Linked DNA regions of Homo sapiens. The protein of the gene in region 2 purifies or fractionates together with the protein of the main gene of each other region. This does not show direct contact. Each region holds a gene or a part of one and is shown on either strand. Other genes may lie near its edges.

Region 1 (4,905 bases), on a different chromosome or scaffold from region 2:
TAGGCAGATCACCCGAGGTCAGGAGTTCGAGACCAGCCTGACCAACATGGTGAAACCCCCTCTCCACTAAAAATACAAAAATTAGCCGGGCATCATGGTGCGTGCCTGTAATCCCAGCCACTCAGGAGGCTGAGGCAGATGAATCACTTGAACCCAGAAGGCAGAGGTTGTGGTGAGCTGAGATCGTGCCGTTGCACTCCAGCCTGGGCAACAGTGAGACTCTGTCTCAAAAAAAAACAAAAAAACAAAACAAAACAAAAAAAAAACAGCTGGGTGTGGTGGCTCACACCTGTAATCCCAGCACTTTGGGAGGCCGAGGCAGGTGGTTCAGCTGAGGTCAGGAGTTTGAGACCAGCCTGGCGAACATGGTGAAACTCCATCTCTACTAAAAATATAAAAATTAACCAGGTGTGGTGGTGCACGCCTGTAATCCCAGCTACTAGGGAGGCCGAGGCAGGGGAATCTCTTGAACCCAGGAGGCGGAGGTTGCAGTGAGCCAAGATGGCACCACTGTACTCCAGCCTGGGTAAGAGAGTGAGACTCTGTCTCAAAAAAAAAACAAAAAAATAGAGCTGGGTAAGAGGGATCAAGTGTGCTGAGTGTGGCCATGATGACTGGTGAGTATTAAATAGGGAGATCAGGGTGGGTTTCATTGCAAAGTTGTATTGGAGCAAAGATTTGAAGGTGTTGAGAGACTTAGCCATGCAGATATCTGGGGGAGGAGTGTCCCAGGCAGAGGGGAGATGTGTGCAAAGTTCCTAAGGCTGGGCTGTGCCTGGTATGCTTGACGAACGGCAGTGATGCCAGTGTGACAAGAGAACAGAGGAAAGGACAGAGCAGTAGAACATGAGGTGATCACCTTATGTAAGAAATGATTTTCTCAGGCCGGGCACCGTGGCCCACACCTGTAATCCCAGCAATTGGGAGCCCAAGGCGGGCAGATCACAAAGTCAAGAGATTGAGACCATCCTGGCCAACATGGTGAAACCCCATCTCTACTAAAAATACAAAAATTAGCTGGGCGTGGTGGTGCATGCCTGTAGTCCCAGCTCCCATACTCGGGAGGCTGAGACAGGAGAATTGCTTGAACCTGGGAGGCGGAGGTTACAGTAAGCCAAGACCACACCACTGCAGTCCATCCAGCCTGGCGACAGAGCAAGACTCTGTCTCAAAAAAAAAAGAAAAAGAAATCATCTTTCTCTGACTGAGGACCAAGAACTTCAAAATTATCCCTGGCCTTCTTTTTTCCAAGGATTTCAAAAATTGAATGCCCAACCAGCTTTGGTAAATAGGCATTCATACACTACTGATGGAGAATAAGTTGGTTCCACTTGTCTGGAGATATTTTTATAATACTGTTGAAAAGCCCTAAAATGTATATACCGTTGACCCATTCTAATCTTCAGAATTTGTTTTAATAATATAATTCGGAATACGTACAGATTTATCAACCAGGATTCTCAGTGCCACATTATTTTATAGAAGAAAAATCTTCATCAATAGGGAACTGGTTAAGTATCCTAGGGTACATCCATAAGATAAAAAATGTTTTTAAAAATGTTTGGCCAGGAATGGTGGCTCACGCCTGTAATCCCAGCACTTTGGGAGGCTGAGGCGGGTGGATCACGAGGTCAGGAGTTCAAGACTAGCCTGACCAACATGGTGAACCCTCCTCTCTACTAAAAATACAAAAATTAGCCAGGTGTGGTGGCGTGCACCTGTAGTCCCTGCTACTCAGGAGGCTGAGGCAGGAGAATTGCTTGAACCCGGGAGACAGAGGTTGGCAGTGAGCCAAGAACGTGCCATTGCACTCCAGCCTGGGAGACAGAGTGAGACTCTATCTCAAAAAAATAAATAAAAAATAAAAATAAAAATGTTTAAGGACTTGGGCCAGGCGCTGTGGCTCACATCTGTAATCCCAACACTTTGGGAGGCTGAGGTGGGCGGATCACTTGAGGTCAGGAATTCGAGACCAGCCTGGCCAACATGGTGAAACCCCATCTCTACTAAAAATAAAAAAATCAGCTGGGTGTGGTGGCCCGTGCCTGTAGTCCCAGTTACTCAGGAGGCTGAGGCAAGAGATTCGCTTGAACCTGGGAGGCGGAGGTTGCAGTGAGCCAAGATTGCACCACTGTACTCCAACCTGGGCAACAGAGTAAGACTCAAAAAAAAAAAAGTTTAAGGACTTGGGAATACATTCGTGATACAGTAAATATGTGGTGGGGAGAGACTAAAGAACAGTATATAGAGAGATTCTACTTTCTTTACAGAATACAATACACACATAGAATTATTTTGCATAATAAAAAAATAACATAAAGATATTTATCCTTGGGGCCCAGTGCGGTGGCTCACGCCTGTAATTAATCCCAGCACTTTGGGAGGCCAAGGCAGGTGGATCACGAGGTCAGGAGATCGAGACCATACTGGCTAACACAGTGAAACCCCGTCTCTACTAAAAATACAAAAAATTAGCCGGCCGTGTTGGCGGGTGCCCATAGTCCCAGCTACTCAGGAGGCTGAGGCAGGAGAATGGTGTGAACCCGGGAGGCAGAGCTTGCAGTGAGCTGAGATCATGCCACTGCACTCCAGCCTGGGTGACAGAGTAAGACTCTGTCCCCCCCAAAAAAAGAAGATATTTATCCTTGGGCTGGGCACAGTGGCTCACGCTTGCAATCCCAGCACTTTGGGGGGCCAAGGTAGGTGAATCATTTAAGCCCAGGAGTTCTAGTCCAGCCTGGGCAACAGAAACTCCACATCCATAAAAAAATACAAAAATTAGCCAGGTGTGGTGGTGTGCACCTGTAGTCCCAGCTACTTGGGAGGCTGAGGTGGGAGGATCATCTGAGCCTGGGGAGGTTGAGGTTGCAGTGAGCAGTGATCATGCCACTGCACTCCATCCAGGGTGATAGAGTGAGACCCTGTTTAAAAAAAAAAAAAAAAGATAGTGTTTAATTTTTATTTTCCTTCTTTATTAAAATTTCTATAGTGGGCCGGGCGCGGTGGCTCACGCCTGTAATCCCAGCACTTTGGGAGGCCGAGGCAGGAGGATCATGAGGTCAGGAGATCGAGACCATCCTGGCTAACATGTGAAACCCCGTCTCCACTACAAATACAAAAAAAAATTAGCCGCGCGTGGTGGCGGGCACCTGTAGTCCCAGCTACTCGGGAGGCTGGGGCAGGAGAATGGCATGAACCTGGGAGGCAGAGCTTGCAGTGAGCCGAGATCACGCCACTGCACTCCAGCCTGGGTGACAGAGCGAGACTCGTCTCAAAAAAAAAAAAAAAATTCTATAGTGACTGTGTCACTTTTGCAGCAAAAAAAGAGTGTTTTGTTGTTTAATGTAAGCAGGCAAAATTCAAGCTTAGGATTTCAGATGCTGAGTGGAAAGACCAATTAGGTTCTGAGCCTCTCCTGGAAGGAAGCTGGCTGTGCCGGATGCTCATTTGGCAGTGTTTTACTCTCCACGTCTAGCATGGTGCTGGAGGCTGGGGCCATAGCAGTGAACAAGATGATTGCGGTTCTTGCTGTGCCTCTCAGAGCTCTGTGTAGTGGGAGACAGAAGTGTATTGGCAGTTACCGTGGTCTAAGTGCCATCCATGAAGGGAACCCAGAGATGAGGGTTTTGATGTGGCTGCTCAGCAGTGAATGATGGGATGGGAGGTCAGGTAGGTTCCCAGCAGTACTCACTCTGGTGGCATGCTAGGACAGACACCCGAGGCCAATATAAGAAGTCTGGTGTGGTCTTTGCACCAGTGCTTTCAACTCTGTTTGTTACTCATCATGGTGGGTGGTGGGCAGTGGTCACAAGCCCTGCCATGGTAGGGCAAAAGGATCAAAATTTGATCCTTGGGTTGGATTCAGCCCTAAAGCCAGATATTATGTATATGTCCTAATTAATAAAGATTCAGAATCTCTAAAGTCCAAAGCACTGAAGAGTTTACATTTCAGGCTTTATACTGAAATACTAAAATTCTGTGTCTTATTCTCTCATCCAGGAACATGACATCGATACAAGTGAAACAGCATTCCAGAACAATTTCTGAAGACCATGCCTCTTGAAGCTTTTTCTGCCTCCTGATTCTCTCTTTGTAAACTATTTTCAAATTGTTTTTCAACTCCTTATCAAAATTGTTTATACACTCTTTCCTCCATGAGCTCTGGAAGGTATATGCATCTTCTGTAATACTCAGATAGGTATAAGATTTTTCACAAAATCCTTATGTAAGATACATTCCATTTTTAAAAATTAAATGTATGGTTGCATCTGTCTTTTTATACCCTATGAAACAGTCTTGATTTTTTTTTCTCAACCCCAGTTCTGGATTTGAGTCTTTTATCAAAGACATAATTAACTCTCAAGCTTGTTGTAAATACTGTACAGCTTTCTGGACCGGTTGAAAGGATACAACAGTGGCTGGACACGGTGGCTCACTCATGTAATCCCAGCACTTTGGGAGGCCGAGGCGGGCGGATCATTTGAGGTCAGGAGTTCAAGACCAGCCTGGCCAACATGGTGAAACCTGTCTCTACTAAAAATACAAAAGTTAGCCAGGTGTGGTGGCATGTGCCTGTAATCCCAGCTACTTGGGAGGCTGAGACAGGAGAATCACTTGAATCTGGGAGGCAGAGGTTGCAGTGAGCCGAGATCACGCCACTACACTCCCGCCTGGGTGACAGTGAGACTCTGTCTCAAAAAAAAAAGGGGGGGATGGGAGGCTAGGTGCAGTGGCTCATGCCTGTAATCCCAGCACTTTGGGAGACCGAGTTGGGTGGATCACGAGGGCAGGAGATCGAGACCATCCTGGCTAACATGGTGAAACCCCATCTCTACTAAAAGTACAAAAAATTAGCCGGGCATGGTGGCACACACCTGTAGTTCCAGCTACTCGGGAGGGTGAGGC
Region 2 (6,740 bases):
ATGTGCAGCCAAGTCAGACACAAGTGTGAGTAGCCTGGGGACTCTGATTGTGGCTGGAGTCTAAAATAAGGGCAGTCTTAGGGCAGGTGCGGTGGCTCATGCCTGTAATCCCAGCACCTCGGGAGACCGAGGAGCACGGATCACTAGAGGTCAGGAATTCAGGAGTTTGAGACCAGCCTGGCCAACATGGTGAAACCTTGTCTCTACTAAAAATACAAAAATTAGCTGGGTGTGGTGGTGGGCACTTGTAATCCCAGCTACTTAGGAGGCTGAGGCACTAGAATTGCTTGAACCCGGGAGACGGAGGTTGCAGTGAGCTGTGATGGGGCCACTGCACTCCAGCCTGGGTGACAGAGCCAGACCCTGTCTCAAAAAATAAATAAACAAATAAATAAATAAAGGCAGTCTTTTTGGGAACCTTGCCCTTTAACTTGTGGGATCTGTTTCTAATTCTAGGTAGTTAGTGTTAGAATTGGATTGAATTCTAGGATATGAGAGAATTGTTTAGAACACAGACTTTTTATTTTTTGCATTTATTGTGGTAAAATATACATAACATAAAACCTTTTAACCATTTATTTTTAAACATTTTAAGCTTCTTATTGAAATATAACAATATAGGAAACACATACACAGTACAACTTGTAAGTACACTGCTCAATCAGATTTCATCTGGATCAAGAACAGAATATTCCAATATTCCGGAAAAGAAAAGAAACATGTTAAAAAGAAAAGATTTTTATTTAAAAAACCTAGACATAGTAATTAAAATGGGGGTTAAGAGAGGTAATCTCTCTATCCCTTTGTGTGTGTGTGTATATATATATATATCATACATAATCCCATATCTATGCATCTATACCCACCCTATAATGTACCATTTTCAGAAATGGGTTTGCAGAAGACTTTCTAAGGGGTATTTGTTTTATTGTTTAAAAGATTATGTGGTAATAACTTTGGGATACACTAAATAGAGTAATCAAACAAGTTTGTCACCCAAGGAAATTTTCACAAATTCAGACTTCAGGGCCTATTGACTGATCATTCTCAAGTCAAGAGAGGAATGAGGAGAATCCTTCTTGCCCATTCTAGATATATTTTTTAAATTATGATAAAATATACATAACAAAATTTACCATTTTAACCATTTTTATGGGTACAATTTAGTGGCATTAACATTCAAAATGTTGAGCAACCATCATCGCTATCCATTTCCAGAATTTGTTCATCCCAAACAGAAACTATGTACTCGTTAAACAATAACCCCACCCCCCATTTCCTCCTCCCTGCAGTCCCTGGCAACCACTATTCTCCTTTCTGTTTCTGTGAACTTGCCTATGCTGGTACCTCATAAAAGTGGCATCATATTTGGCCTTTTGTGTCTGGCTTATTTCACTTAGCATAGTGTTTTCAAGGTTTATCCTGAGGTAGTATTTATCAGAATTTCATTCCTTTTTAAAGCTAAATAATATTCCATTGTATGTATTATAGCACATTTGTTTATCCATTCATGATAGACACTTGAGCTGTTTCCATCTTTTGCTATTCCAGTAATGCTGCTATGAACTTGGTGTATAAATAGTGGCATTTTATACATTTGTACAAATCCATCCTCATGTATTTTTGTTCTATAAATAAACTTTTGGAGGCATTTTACAATTTAGAGGTCAAATAGAAATTAATGGTAACATACATTTCAAAGAGTCCAATGTTTTATTATCGACATTAATATTTGTTCATGCTGAAGATTTAGGGATGAAGTAATGGGCAAAAAACTGACATATAATCGACACTACACAGGTATCTCTTAAGTACATAGTAATATTTTGCTAATTATTGGACTAAAAAATATAAAAGATAGAAATACATCAATTACTTTGTGTTTCATCTTTCTGCATGTACTTTTACACTAAATACACAGCAAGTACTTATACTCGGTTAAAGATTATGCTTTTTTCTTTAGCAACCAAAACATGCTTACCCTTGGTTAATCAGAACGTGTTTCAAAAGATAAAATTTCTTAAAGATACGCATGGCATTTAGGGCTTTAAACCTATACTCTTGCTGGATTGGCTGCTTGATGATTGCTCTCTTTCTTTTGTAATTTCCATCTCAATTTTGGCTTTGATTTTCTCCCAATCTATTTGGAGCTGCAATAGAAAAAAAAAAGAAGAAATATGCTTAGATAGTGTAAGACATTTTTGTTTACTCCAAAGTAACTAAGAGTAAACAGATAGACTGTGTGACTTCCAAAAGATTAGAGAAAAAGAGAGCATCAAAAGATTAGAGAAAAAGAGAGCATCAAAGTTAAGAAGAAGAAATAATGCTTGGCCAGGCATAGTGGCTTACTCCTGTAATCCCAATAGTATGGAAGGCTGAGGTGGGTGGATTGCTTGAGTCTAGGAGTTTGACAACATCCTGGGCAACATGGCAAAGTTCCGAGATGGGAAAATAAATACAAAAAATAAAAAAAGTAGCTGGGTGTGGTGGCACACACCTGTAGTCCCAGCTATTAGGGAGGCTAAGGTGGGAGAATCAACTAAGCCCTCAAGGTCAAGGCTGCAGTGAGCCGTGATTGCACCATTGCACTCCAGCCTGGGTGACAGAGCAAGGGCCCTGTCTCAAAAAAAACAAAAACAAATAATGCTCAAAAACCACAAAGTAGTTTTAAGAATAAGACCAAAAAATAAGAATTATATAATAAAAAGCAAAGACTCTCATTGTGATTTAAAAGACCAAAATCTAGTCACAGCTATTTATAAAGGTACATCTAAACAGTCCCATGGAGCCTTAGGATTGTGTACACGTGCTCAGGGACAAGGTAGGGGATGAGATGGACCGCTGTCTTCCAAACGAGGAAAAAGTGGACCGGACTCTGGTTACCAAGCCATTTTTCAAATAGGCTTCACATCTTATATACTGCAGTTTCCACTGGAAGCCTAGTTATGAGGAAAGACAGGGATTCATTAGCTTCCCCTAAGCATATTCTGTGAAAGTGGCTCCTTTGCACCAACTCTTAAAGTAAGACATGGTGGTCATTAAGACAATGAGGAAAAGATGTTAGAGAAAGCGAAGGGAAAGCAAGACTGGGAAACACATGAAAAGAATAACTGCAAAGTGCAAACATTTTTATTTGTTTGCTTCCCTTCTATCCGTTATGCAGTCTCCCCTCCCCTAGCCCAGCCCTATTCCTCTCTTAAGTTCATTAGACTTGTTAGGAATAGACTCTGCCCCTGAGTTCTATGAGCAACTTCTTTAGGAAAGCACATTCTACCAGTTAACAAAGTTTGGAGATCACTAATTTAGGAATGTTTATCCTTTCTGAGGCAAGACATGGAAAAAATTGGGTCATAGATTAAACTAACTCTGATTTACAGGAAATAAATCCAAACCCCTGAGTCTGGGCCAAAAGTGAATAGGTTTTCACCTCTGTTTAGGGGAGTTGAATGGAATAAGTAGTATTAAAGCAGAATGAAGTAATCTCAGTCTGCTTGAACAGATTTAGCTTAAGTAAGTGAGGGGTTAATTTAACTTTAATAGGACTTCATGCCTCTTTTATGCTGGAGGTTAAAGAAATTAAGTATTTTTTTTAATTCCAATATCCCATACCTGAATTGCTGTGAAGCAATTTGTAAATATTTTGGCTCACCTTTATTTAAAATAACAATGCCATATACTTATGTATAATACATAAAATAGATGAATTAATAAACGAATTCCTCTCACTCATAGAAGACAAATGTCTGTGCTAAGATGCAAGTGACAGCTCATTGAAAAGCCAAGCAGATGTTAGATTATTTGAAAGACTCATTTTTTCAATCAGGGCAAAATCTGATATTTTTTAAACGGCAAAGCACTCATTTCTATGTCTAACAAAACACTTATAGAGAAGACGAAACTTGATGGATGCTTTGGGTTTCTTCCAGCCTTAAATTGACTTACATACATTTCTCAAATCAATCACAATAAAACCATACATTGATAATATACTGAACAACTGCTGCTCTGTTGCAAGTAAATTGATGATATCTGTATTAGTTATTTGTTATAATACAAATCAGGGTGTCAGTGGATAGCTGTCCTACTGAAAATAAATGTTTCACTTTCGCTTTGGCATTGATCTAGTTTTAAAAAGTGTTCTACAGATAATTTAGTTCGTGGATTAGAATATTTTTAATAGTAGGTTTTAGATAAGAATGTTCTCTGATAGTTGTCAAGTGATTTCTACACTAAAATCCATCTTTTGCTAGTATAGGGACTGCCAATATTATCTGGCACTCCTTATTCTACTCGCTAGCCAATTCTTAGTCACCTATAAGCAATTTCAAAATCATACCAAAAGGCTCTCCATCCTCTAACACATTTCTCTTTCTCTTCCTCTCAGCTGAAGATCAGCTTCCTACTTTACAGAGAATATAGTGGCCATGAGGTATGAATTCACTTTATTTTCCTTCCTTGCATTCACGAACTTACCTGTATCTACACCCATCATTATCTTTCTCTTCCGTCTCAGGCCAACCTCTTAACATATGTCTCTGATTCCATTTTCTTTGACTCCTCTAGGACATCTGACTTCAATTATTCCTCACACATTAAATGTCCTTCTTTTCACTGACTCGCTCTCATCATCCTTGGCTCTCTATGCTGTCTTCTCCCTGCAAGCTACCATCCTTCTTCTTCTCATTCCTGACTCTCATTCTCTTCCCTGTCCACTATAATTCTGATCCTGTGACACTTTAAGAACTTTGCACTAAAACCACCTTCGGCTGTTTTCAGTCCTTATCTTATATACCTTCTCTGTATGATTCAATTTTTCATTCAACAAATATTTAGTGCTTAGTATATATCAAGGATTGTCTGAGGTACAAGGATTCACCAGTGAACAAAAAGATAGAAATCACTGTCTTCATAGAGAGATAATAAACAAAGATAAAAATGGAAAGGGCAGATAATAAACAAAACAAAAAATATATCTAGTATGCCAGAAGCGGTAAAGATTTTGAAAATAGAGAAGGGAGATAGTGAGCACCAGGAATAGAATAGGAGGTTGCAATGTCATCAGTTTACTTCACGGGAGGCCAAGGCAAGAGGATTGCTTGAGCCCAGGAGTTCAAGACCAGCCTGGGCAACATAGTGAGACCCTGTCTATACAAAAAAATAAAAAATTTAGCTGGGCTTGGTGGCATTCATCTCTAGTCCCATCTACTTAGAGGGCTCAGGTGAAAGGATCGCTTGAGTCTGGCTATGTTGAGGCCACAGTAAGCTGTCATTGTGCCACTGCACTCCAGCCTGGGCAACAAAGTGAGACCCTGTCTCAAAAAAAAAAAAAAAAAGGGGGACCTGAAGGAGATGAGTGAGACCCATGTGTATATCTGGAGAAGGGCATGGTGACATGCAGAAGTACACGGACGGCCCTGGAATAAGAGCCTTCTCTGGACCTTGCTGACCACTGCTCTTTGAAAAATCTCTCAAGACTGTATAATACCATTCTCTTCTGGCTCCTGCTCTCCTTTCTAAATGCTGCTTCTTTCTTTCTCTCTCTTTTTTCCCTATATTCTGCTCCCTAGACAATGTTGGAGAAGAAATATAATTTCTCCTCAACGCTTGTAAGTTTATTGATGGGAGAGATAGGTGAAAAGAGAAAAACAAGCCGGTTCAATAATATGTGCAGTGTACATCACAGCAGGAGAAATCTCAATGAAAGGTAACTCAAAACAGTGTCTTGGAACTCTGGGTTACATAGCATTTTCAACAAAGAACAATAAATTTTAAAGATGTGACAAGACTGTTTTTAGAGAAGTGAAAACAGTTTTAGGCTTCCAGAGATTGGAAACCATGGGAAAAAAATATATGGGAAGAAACTAATCAGGTGAGGTTTGTTCTATTTTTGAGACAGGGTCTTGCTCTGTCACCCAGGCTGGTGTGTGGTGGCCCAAACATGGCTCACCGCAGCCTCAACCTCCTGCTGGGACCACAGGTGTATGCTACCACACCTGGCTAATTTTTTAAATTTTTTTAGAGACAAGGTCTCACTTTGTTACCCAGGCTGGTCCTGAACTCTTGGGCTTGGCTTACATGATCCTCCTGCCTTGGTCTCCCAAAGTGCTGAGATTACAGGGGTGAGCTACCACGCCCAGCCACGGAGTAAGGTTTTTTGGTAGATTGCTCTGGAGTCGTCCCTGAGCTGACAAGAGTTGTCTCTAGTAAAGGAGAATTTATATTTTGTCTTTAGGAGGAAAAGGGGGAGAATAGAGCTCTTCCATTTGCTGCAGCTTGTCTTTAGCTCAAAAATATAAGTGTCAAAGAGACATATTTTGGGGTGTCATATTTTGGTTTCCTTCAACAACCTCTTAACTGTTAATATTCACCAGGGTCCAACCATAGCTTTCTAACACTTTCCCTAAGAAATATCAATTCATATAGCTTCAACTATACCTAGATGGTCAAGGCAATAAATTTAGTTTTCTAGCCCTTATTTCTCCCTTGTCAATGTCCTTTTGTGTTCATATTTATATTTCTAATTGCCTGCTAGATACCTCCTTCTGGACACCTGATAGACACTCTAATCACATACAAAATGGTATATTTTCATGTATTCAAACTCAAAGGTCCAAAATGTGTATATTCTTATGTATTCTTTAGATTAATGGCATTCCCATCTATCAGCTGCCCACACTAGAAATGTTGAAGTCATTCTCAAATGCCCTGCCTTACCTCACCACCTCTCCTCCCACCCCCAG
Region 3 (7,370 bases), about 52 Mb from region 2:
GGAAAAAGAAGGGTCGTTTACACTTACAAATGACCGAAGCTCGGATAGTATGTTAGATATTGTTGCATTAGGGTCATCATATTCTTGAGGCTGCTCAAAGGGACGTCCCGCTTTATTAATCAACCAAGCAGCAAGAGTACAAAACATGTAGAACTGTTCGCCAGGGTTGGTAGGCAGTGCAAAATAGTGTCTGTTTCAAAACAAGGAGGAATGGGGGCGGATGTGAAATAATGCAAATAAGTCTATAATAACTAATAGGGCCGAATTCACAATTGTCCAACAATCTTTCTTCCCCCCAAATGGCCATCAAAAGACCTCGATAATTCACCCTTTGAAGTTTCCAGTAATCCACAGCACTCACATTGAAGTTTTTAAATCAGCAGGATTAGGGCAATTACTACTGTACCCAAAATATTAGATCAAAGACCTTACACCCAGGAAATGTAGTGCATGTTAGAGCACAGAGCATGTAGAATTTTTGCCAAAATGATTTAAGTGTCAGTAATAATATGTAAGTACCTTATGAATGAAAATGGTAATCTGGAAGAACCTCAGAGTTTAAAAAAGACCTCAACGATTACTCATTATGCATTTTTACTGTTTCTAACCTATCACCTATGGTGAACATTTGTTTCTATGTTGGCTGCATATTCAATCACCTGAGGAGCTAATAAAAATACTGGTACTTGACCAAACATTGCTTCTTCCCTCATGAATGAATTAAATCAGAACTTCAGTGAAAGTAGGCCCAGTATGGGGTATATTTCAAAAGATTTCTACATGTTTATAAGGTGTAGTCAGGATTAAGAACCTGTGAATGTCACATCACCAGTCAAACATCTGTGGGCTCTTGCTTAATCCCCTAGTCTACTAAACACAGTTCTACGAGGATCAGTATGATTTATACCTAAACATTATAGGAATAAAACTCACTAGCAACAACATTCAAGTCAGTTTAATCAAAGATCTTATTTGTCTTGTTCATGTGTAGCTATCATTATTATGTTTACAATGTATTTACAACTATTATAACCATTGTCATAAAAATCTGTCGTGTACTCCTTCATGTTTCCCAAACTTTTTCCTGCAGGATAAATGTAAATGTTCTGGAAGATAACAGAAAGCTGGGAAGAAAAAAGGCCATGAAGTCCTTCCAGGTATATGCTCACTATCCTTTCAAAGCACCCACCCACCAAAAAGTCATCTTTTCCTTATCGGCAGATAACTCTTCTAGGGCAGAGGAATGAACACCAATAGATACTGTAAACCTAGGACAGTGGTTCCCAAACATTAGTGTCCATCAGAATCATCTGGAAGGCTTACTGAAACAGATGCTAGGCCCCATCCCTATAATTACTGAAAAGGTAGACCTGGGAAAGGGCCTGAGGAATTTCATTTCTAGTAAGTTCCCAGGTGATGCTGATGCTGTTGGTCTGGTGATCACATTTTGAGAACCATTGGACTAGGATATCCCCACACAAATCCATGATTCAAAGTATCCTGCTGAACCCCTGAGGACACAGTGCAAGAGATGACATCAACAGAACCTTAAGGACATTTTGTTTTCATTTTAAAAATATACTTGGAAAAAAATGCATTTTTATTAACATAGGAAATGTTGGTTGTCTATATTATCCTGATCAATTCACTTTAAGTAATAATCCCAGGACTACCTTTTCTAACATGGATCAAGCAACACTACTTTTTCCTTTATCTTTTCTCCGACCATGGACTAATTTAATATGAACAGTTTATATCAAGCCTACATATCTTTCAATTCAAGTTATTGGAAGACAGCAGTGGAATGAGATTAAAACTATCAAGGGAAATTATTTGAGCCTGGCTGTAGACATTAAGTACTATAGATTCTTAATACTGATTGCCTTTTATGGAATAAAATATACAAATGTAAGTATTAAAGTGAAAGAAAAGCTATAAAACTGATTTATCTGGCTACTGCTAAGCTACAGTGATTTGAGGAGAAGGTCCTAGCTGACCACTACCCTCAGCAAGTAATGGCATTGCTTTCAGGATATGTTGGACTTTTCCCCCACCGGAACAAGGGTAAAACTTTAGGTTCTATGATAGGGGGACAATTCAATAGTTGTCATTCGTCTTTTCCACTTTTCAGTTTCTGAGAGTATGGTTATTACAAAGGCAGAAGTCTTTTAAACCATAGCAAGTAGTTAACAAGTTTACTAACCGCATTTAAAGTGCTCCTTAACAGGATCCTAAGTACCCACGGTCCCCAGTTGTATGAACAGGGTCTTAAACAACAACAAAAAACCCCAAACTAGAAAAAAAGCCTTAAGTGATAATGGCATTCCTCTCTGGAGGCGAATTTTGGACGGTCTTATAATTTTTCTAGACATTTACTTGTGTTTTTCTGAGTTTTCTTCAATGAGTATTTGTTTCATCTTTACAATCAGAAAATATAGTTTGTGTTTTCTGGTAATGCGTGTGTGTTGGAAAAAAACAGGCAAGCTGTCTTCCGATCCTTTCTGCCGTTCCAAAACTTATTTATTCTCTCTACAAAAATACCAAGTCAGGGCTGCGTGAGCTCCACGGACCTCCCGGGAGTTTGGGGTGAAGTGCCCTTCCCTGGCTAGGAAGACGGAGGCAAGGAATTGCTAACCCGCTCTCACGAAACTGGTTCCCAGCAGGACCAAGGAGGGCATCTCCCTGGGGGCTAGCAGGCACCCGGGCGCTCGGGGACGCCGGCACCCACCTGGACGGGGCCTTCAGGTTGCTCTTCCGGAGGAACTCCTCCTCGTAGCGGAGCAGCTTCAGCTTCTCCACCAAGTCCTCCATCACCACGAACATGTGGTAGGCCGCGCCGGGCCCCCGCTCCAAGACCACTTCCCCGGTCCCTTCGCCACGGGACCTAGGCACCCCATCTTCCAAACCCGACGTCGTGACGACGGCCAGAGCAGCAGTCATCGCAGAACGGACAGAGTCCAGCGTGGGCTCAGGCCCACAGACCTCTGCGGCCTAAGCCGCCAGCCCTGCCGCCGCCAGTACAGCCACGACCGGTTACCAGGCGACCACCGGACAATCCGTCACCAGGGAAACTAGACTCCGCCTCCTTCCCTCCAATCAGGGCGGCTTTCCTGAATGACGTCACCTGTGGCCCTCTTCTTGCCCTGCCTCTGTGGAAATGGTGGTCGGGAAGCAGCCCCGCCCCTCATGGAGGCGTGGCGTTCGCGCCCCACTGCCGGCTGCGTCTTCTCCCTCGCTGAAAGTCTGAAGGGAGCCGGCTTACGTTTCTGCTCCGCTTGCCTAGTGAGTCTTGAGCTGGCTTGAGGTGTGTTGGACCTGGTGGTTGCTAAAAGCAATTAAGCGGGCATCTGGGTCAGCTAGTAGCTGTTAAAAAGATTAAAGGGAGGTGAAGACGTGTAGCACTGAAGGCTGCACTGGCTCACTGATACCTTTATTTTCTCAGAATTGAAAAGTTTTTCATAGTTGTAAAGATAGTCAATACCATAGGTTTCACTTTTACTGCAGGAACTTTCCAACGAGAGGTTTCTCTCGTTCTTTCTTTAATTTTATCTTTCTCTCACTAGGCAATGCTGCACTTAACAGTATATTGTAAAGCTTGAAGTACTGTATTACGTTGCCTGGCTGTTACTCCAGTGCTAGGAAAGTGGTTGGAAGGATGAGGAAGACAATGAACAAAAGGAGGCATTTGGAAGGATTTGTTTTACTTCAAAAACAAGAATACTAAGCTTCCATCCTGCTGCTTAATCTGTTTCAAACCCATTACATGTAGTATAAAGTGTTTGGGTACTTCGTTAAATCCAACAGAATAGAGATGGTCTTAAAAGGAATTTCCCTGCCCTAAAGCTCTAAGGGTGGCTAAAGATAGGGTGTTACTACTGTATTCTGCAGTTATTGACCTAGAAAATTTAAGAAAAGGTACATAACTGACCACAGAAATGGCCCAGCTTTACAGTTTTCAAAAGGCTTCTGTATTAGGCAATTTTCTTAACAGTTGCAAAAAATGAGGTAAGTGGTGGATGCCTGGCAGTTTTTGGGAAGAAAACTTAGTACAAGAGATTGAACATATGTTCATGTTTATAACGTGACTTTTAAGGGCTCTCTGATCTCTTGTATCTGCCACTACAAAATATAGAAGGGCTACATTTTTGGACAACTGAAATTTGAAATGTATCTACAATATCCTGTTTTTATTAGAAAAAATGAGAACACTTTTCATTGTAATCCGTCTACAGCTAACTTGTTTCTGATACTAATAAGGTTATCAAAGTGAAAAGTCAGAAGGGCAAATACCATTTTTTCATTAAAGAAAGGAAGTACATAAAATTACAGACTTATGTAGAGAATAACCTGAAGGGCAGCCCACTGAGAATTGCTTTTTAAATAAATAACATTGCTTGCCTACCACAAGTCATGAGCCAGCTGCTTTTAATAAAGTTGAGTGAGAAAATTGGATTTGATGTTACCCCACTACCAAATTGATCTTTCCTGGTCTTTGCCTTTTTGAAACAGTGATTCTCCCCGATAAGTCCATACCCCAACCACCACCACATGTGCAGCTTGGGGGTGTTATATGTATGTATAACAGTCACAGTAGTGTAAGATAGATGTATGGCTTTATAAGACTGAAAAATGAAAGCTTAGATATGTTTTGGGGTCCTAAGTTAACTAACAAGCAAACTGGGGCTTTTTACATGACTCTGAAAAAGCTCTCAGACTTTGGAAGTAAATTTATTACACTCAGGGAGGGAGATGTTCCTGCCAGGCATGCTGCCTACTTAAGATGTTCTGACATTTTCAGGAAGTTACGTAACACAGTATGAAATAGTCAAACGTTGCTTTTTAGCTGATAAATCCTCCAGCAACGTATGTATTTTAACTTGGGGGAAACAAAACGACTCCCAGGGTCTTAGCCATTTCCTTCCCAGGTAAAATACTGACACAGCCTGGCCTGAAAGCAGTATACAGAATAATTTCCCCCCTTAATTGTGAAGAAGAAAAAAACCCAAAAATATAAAGTATTTCCAGTAATTGTGGCACAAAGAGAACAAAAAAGCTAACTGTTCAATACTGCATGTTTCCCCAATAAAAAGTTTTAGAAAGAACACTGAAATTTCATTGTTTTGTAAAGCCCAGGGATTATTTTTGCTGATTCCTTGTTTACCTGTAATAGTTTGTAACACATCAAAAGATCTTTTCCTTGATAGTTTTCTTCGTGTGTGTGAAAATGCACTCAAATCCTCTTCTAGCTGTTTCAGCCACTTGGAAACTTTGGGGAATACAGTTGTATCAGGTTTTTTTTTGTTGTTTTGGTTTGCAGGACTAGTTTATTTGTTGACTAAGGAGTTAGAGCTTGAAGAGAATGAGCCATGTTCATTCTTCCTGTAAAATCTCAATTTCATCCCTGGTTTTACTGTATTCGCCACTATTAATAGCTGGCCTTCTGACTTTGACTTTTATTTCTTTCAAACTATCTGTGAGGTAATTGAAAGTAACTTTTTTTTTTTTTTTTTTTGAGACGGAGTCTTGCCCTGTCACCAGGCTGGAGTGTAATGGCACGATATTGGCTCACTGCAACCTCCGCCTCCTGGATTTAAGCGGTTCCCCTGCCTCAGCTTTTTAAAACTCGTGGATCTTTCTGTGAAACTCTGAAAACTAAATAGCATTCCAGGCCGGGCACGGTAGCTCATGCCTGTAATCCCAGCACTTTGGGAGGCTGAGGCAGGCGGATCATTTGAGGTCAGGAGTTCGAAACCAGCCTGGCCAACATGGTGAAACCCCCGTCTCTACTAAAAATACAAAAATTAGCCAGGCGTGGTGATGGGCGCCTGTAATCCCAGCTACTCAGGAGACTGAGGCAGGAGAATTGCTTGAACCCAGGAGGCAGAGGTTGCAGTGAGCAGAGATGGTGCCACTGCACTCCAGCCTGGGCAACAGAATGAGACTTTGTCTCAAAAAAAAAAAAGTATCCCAGTCAAAGCCAATTTAAGCTCAATGGATTTCCCTGAAAGGTGCTTAGCAAGGCTGGGGGTGAAAAGGAGGCAGATTCTAGAATGGAGGAAGGCTTTCCAGCTGCACCTTCAAATAGAAGAGCAAATCCTTCAGGCAAACTGGGTAGGCTTAAAGAACAAAGCTGTGCTGTGTTATAAATGGCTTAGTACCACCCATTTGGGTTGTTAAAAACTTAGAAAATCGCTAACTGAATAAATCTTCCTTGAAACTATAGAGAAGGAAAAACTTTTTCTGCCCTCTTTGGTTCAATAGCTGGGCCTGTGAATTAAATGAACATAAGACAAGTAAACAGGAAAAAAGCACACAAATTTTATTTAATATTTTTACATGCACATGGGAGCATTCAAAAGAAAAATGAAGCGGATAGGACCAACAGCTTATATGCCTTTTTTTTTTTTAAAGAAAACAAAGAATGATACATTTGTAGGGAAGTGACAAGACAAAGGAAAAGGGATTTAAGGTTGACAAACTGTAGACAAGTGACTAGGAAAAATATGGGTAAAATTAGTGGAAGATAAAGATTATTTTAATAGGTTTGTTTCTGCAGACCCATTTTAGCATTAATTTCCAGGCTCCCATCATAAAAATGTTATTTCCTGGTACAGGGATGGCTTCTTTCTCATGGGAAATTTTATGACTTGCTTTTAAGTAGGAAGGGGAAGGTCAGAGAGCCCTTCATATATCTGCTGTATCGCAGGTGCCTTCATATCACAATAATCAGTATGCAACAGCAGCATATTTTGGGGTGGCATGTTCTAAGCCCCATTCAACCTCATCAAAAGTGTCTGCCAAAAATCTAGAAGGAAAAAAATCATATTTATATGTAAATCTTTAAAAGCGGTGCCTCGTAAAGCAATTTACATTACCTCTTCAAAACTGCCCTATAGACCAGAACCAGTGCACTCAGACAAAAAGATAGGAGTAACTATTGCAGTTGCTGTGATTAATTAAAATATCCAAGAGAATCTACAGACATGCTATTAAGATAGCTCAGCAAGTTTGCCATATATGAGGTCCAAACTAAAAAGAGTTATTGGATGCATAGTATTCTATTGACTATTTTGAATTAAAAGCACTTAAAACCCCAAAAGTTACTGGAGATGATAGTTAGAAAAACAAACCTCATAATAAGCAACACACAGCACCCAGGAACAAACCTATCATTATCTTTATAGAGAGATTGTTAAACTTTACTGAAAGTTTTGGAAAAATTCAAATAGGAATACAATGTTTATAATGAGAAAAGTCAGCATATTTGCCCAATCTATAAATTTAGCATAATTTCAACTATAATTCCAGGAGGGCTATTCTGAAATTCATATGTAAGCATAAATTTTAAAGAAGTCTGAGGTAGGAATTAC

What was found.
Region 1: the proteins of IFT80 (region 2) and IFT52 purify together in Homo sapiens (affinity purification with mass spectrometry; 2 studies listed by BioGRID and IntAct, with this or other methods). This does not show direct contact.
Region 3: the proteins of IFT80 (region 2) and IFT57 purify together in Homo sapiens (affinity purification with mass spectrometry; 5 studies listed by BioGRID and IntAct, with this or other methods). This does not show direct contact.

Annotation. Positions count from the first base shown.
Region 1 is NC_000020.11:43,642,937-43,647,841, forward strand, and holds the end of IFT52 (intraflagellar transport protein 52 homolog), read left to right. Parts: intron 1-3,999; coding exon 4,000-4,047; 3' UTR 4,048-4,363; downstream 4,364-4,905. UniProt on the Homo sapiens protein: Involved in ciliogenesis as part of a complex involved in intraflagellar transport (IFT), the bi-directional movement of particles required for the assembly, maintenance and functioning of primary cilia. Required for the anterograde transport of IFT88.
Region 2 is NC_000003.12:160,256,486-160,263,225, forward strand, and holds the end of IFT80 (intraflagellar transport protein 80 homolog), read right to left. Parts: intron 2,151-6,740; coding exon 2,040-2,150; 3' UTR 501-2,039; downstream 1-500.
Region 3 is NC_000003.12:108,219,383-108,226,752, forward strand, and holds the start of IFT57 (intraflagellar transport protein 57 homolog), read right to left. Parts: upstream 3,043-7,370; 5' UTR 2,941-3,042; coding exon 2,729-2,940; intron 191-2,728; coding exon 28-190; intron 1-27. UniProt on the Homo sapiens protein: Required for the formation of cilia. Plays an indirect role in sonic hedgehog signaling, cilia being required for all activity of the hedgehog pathway.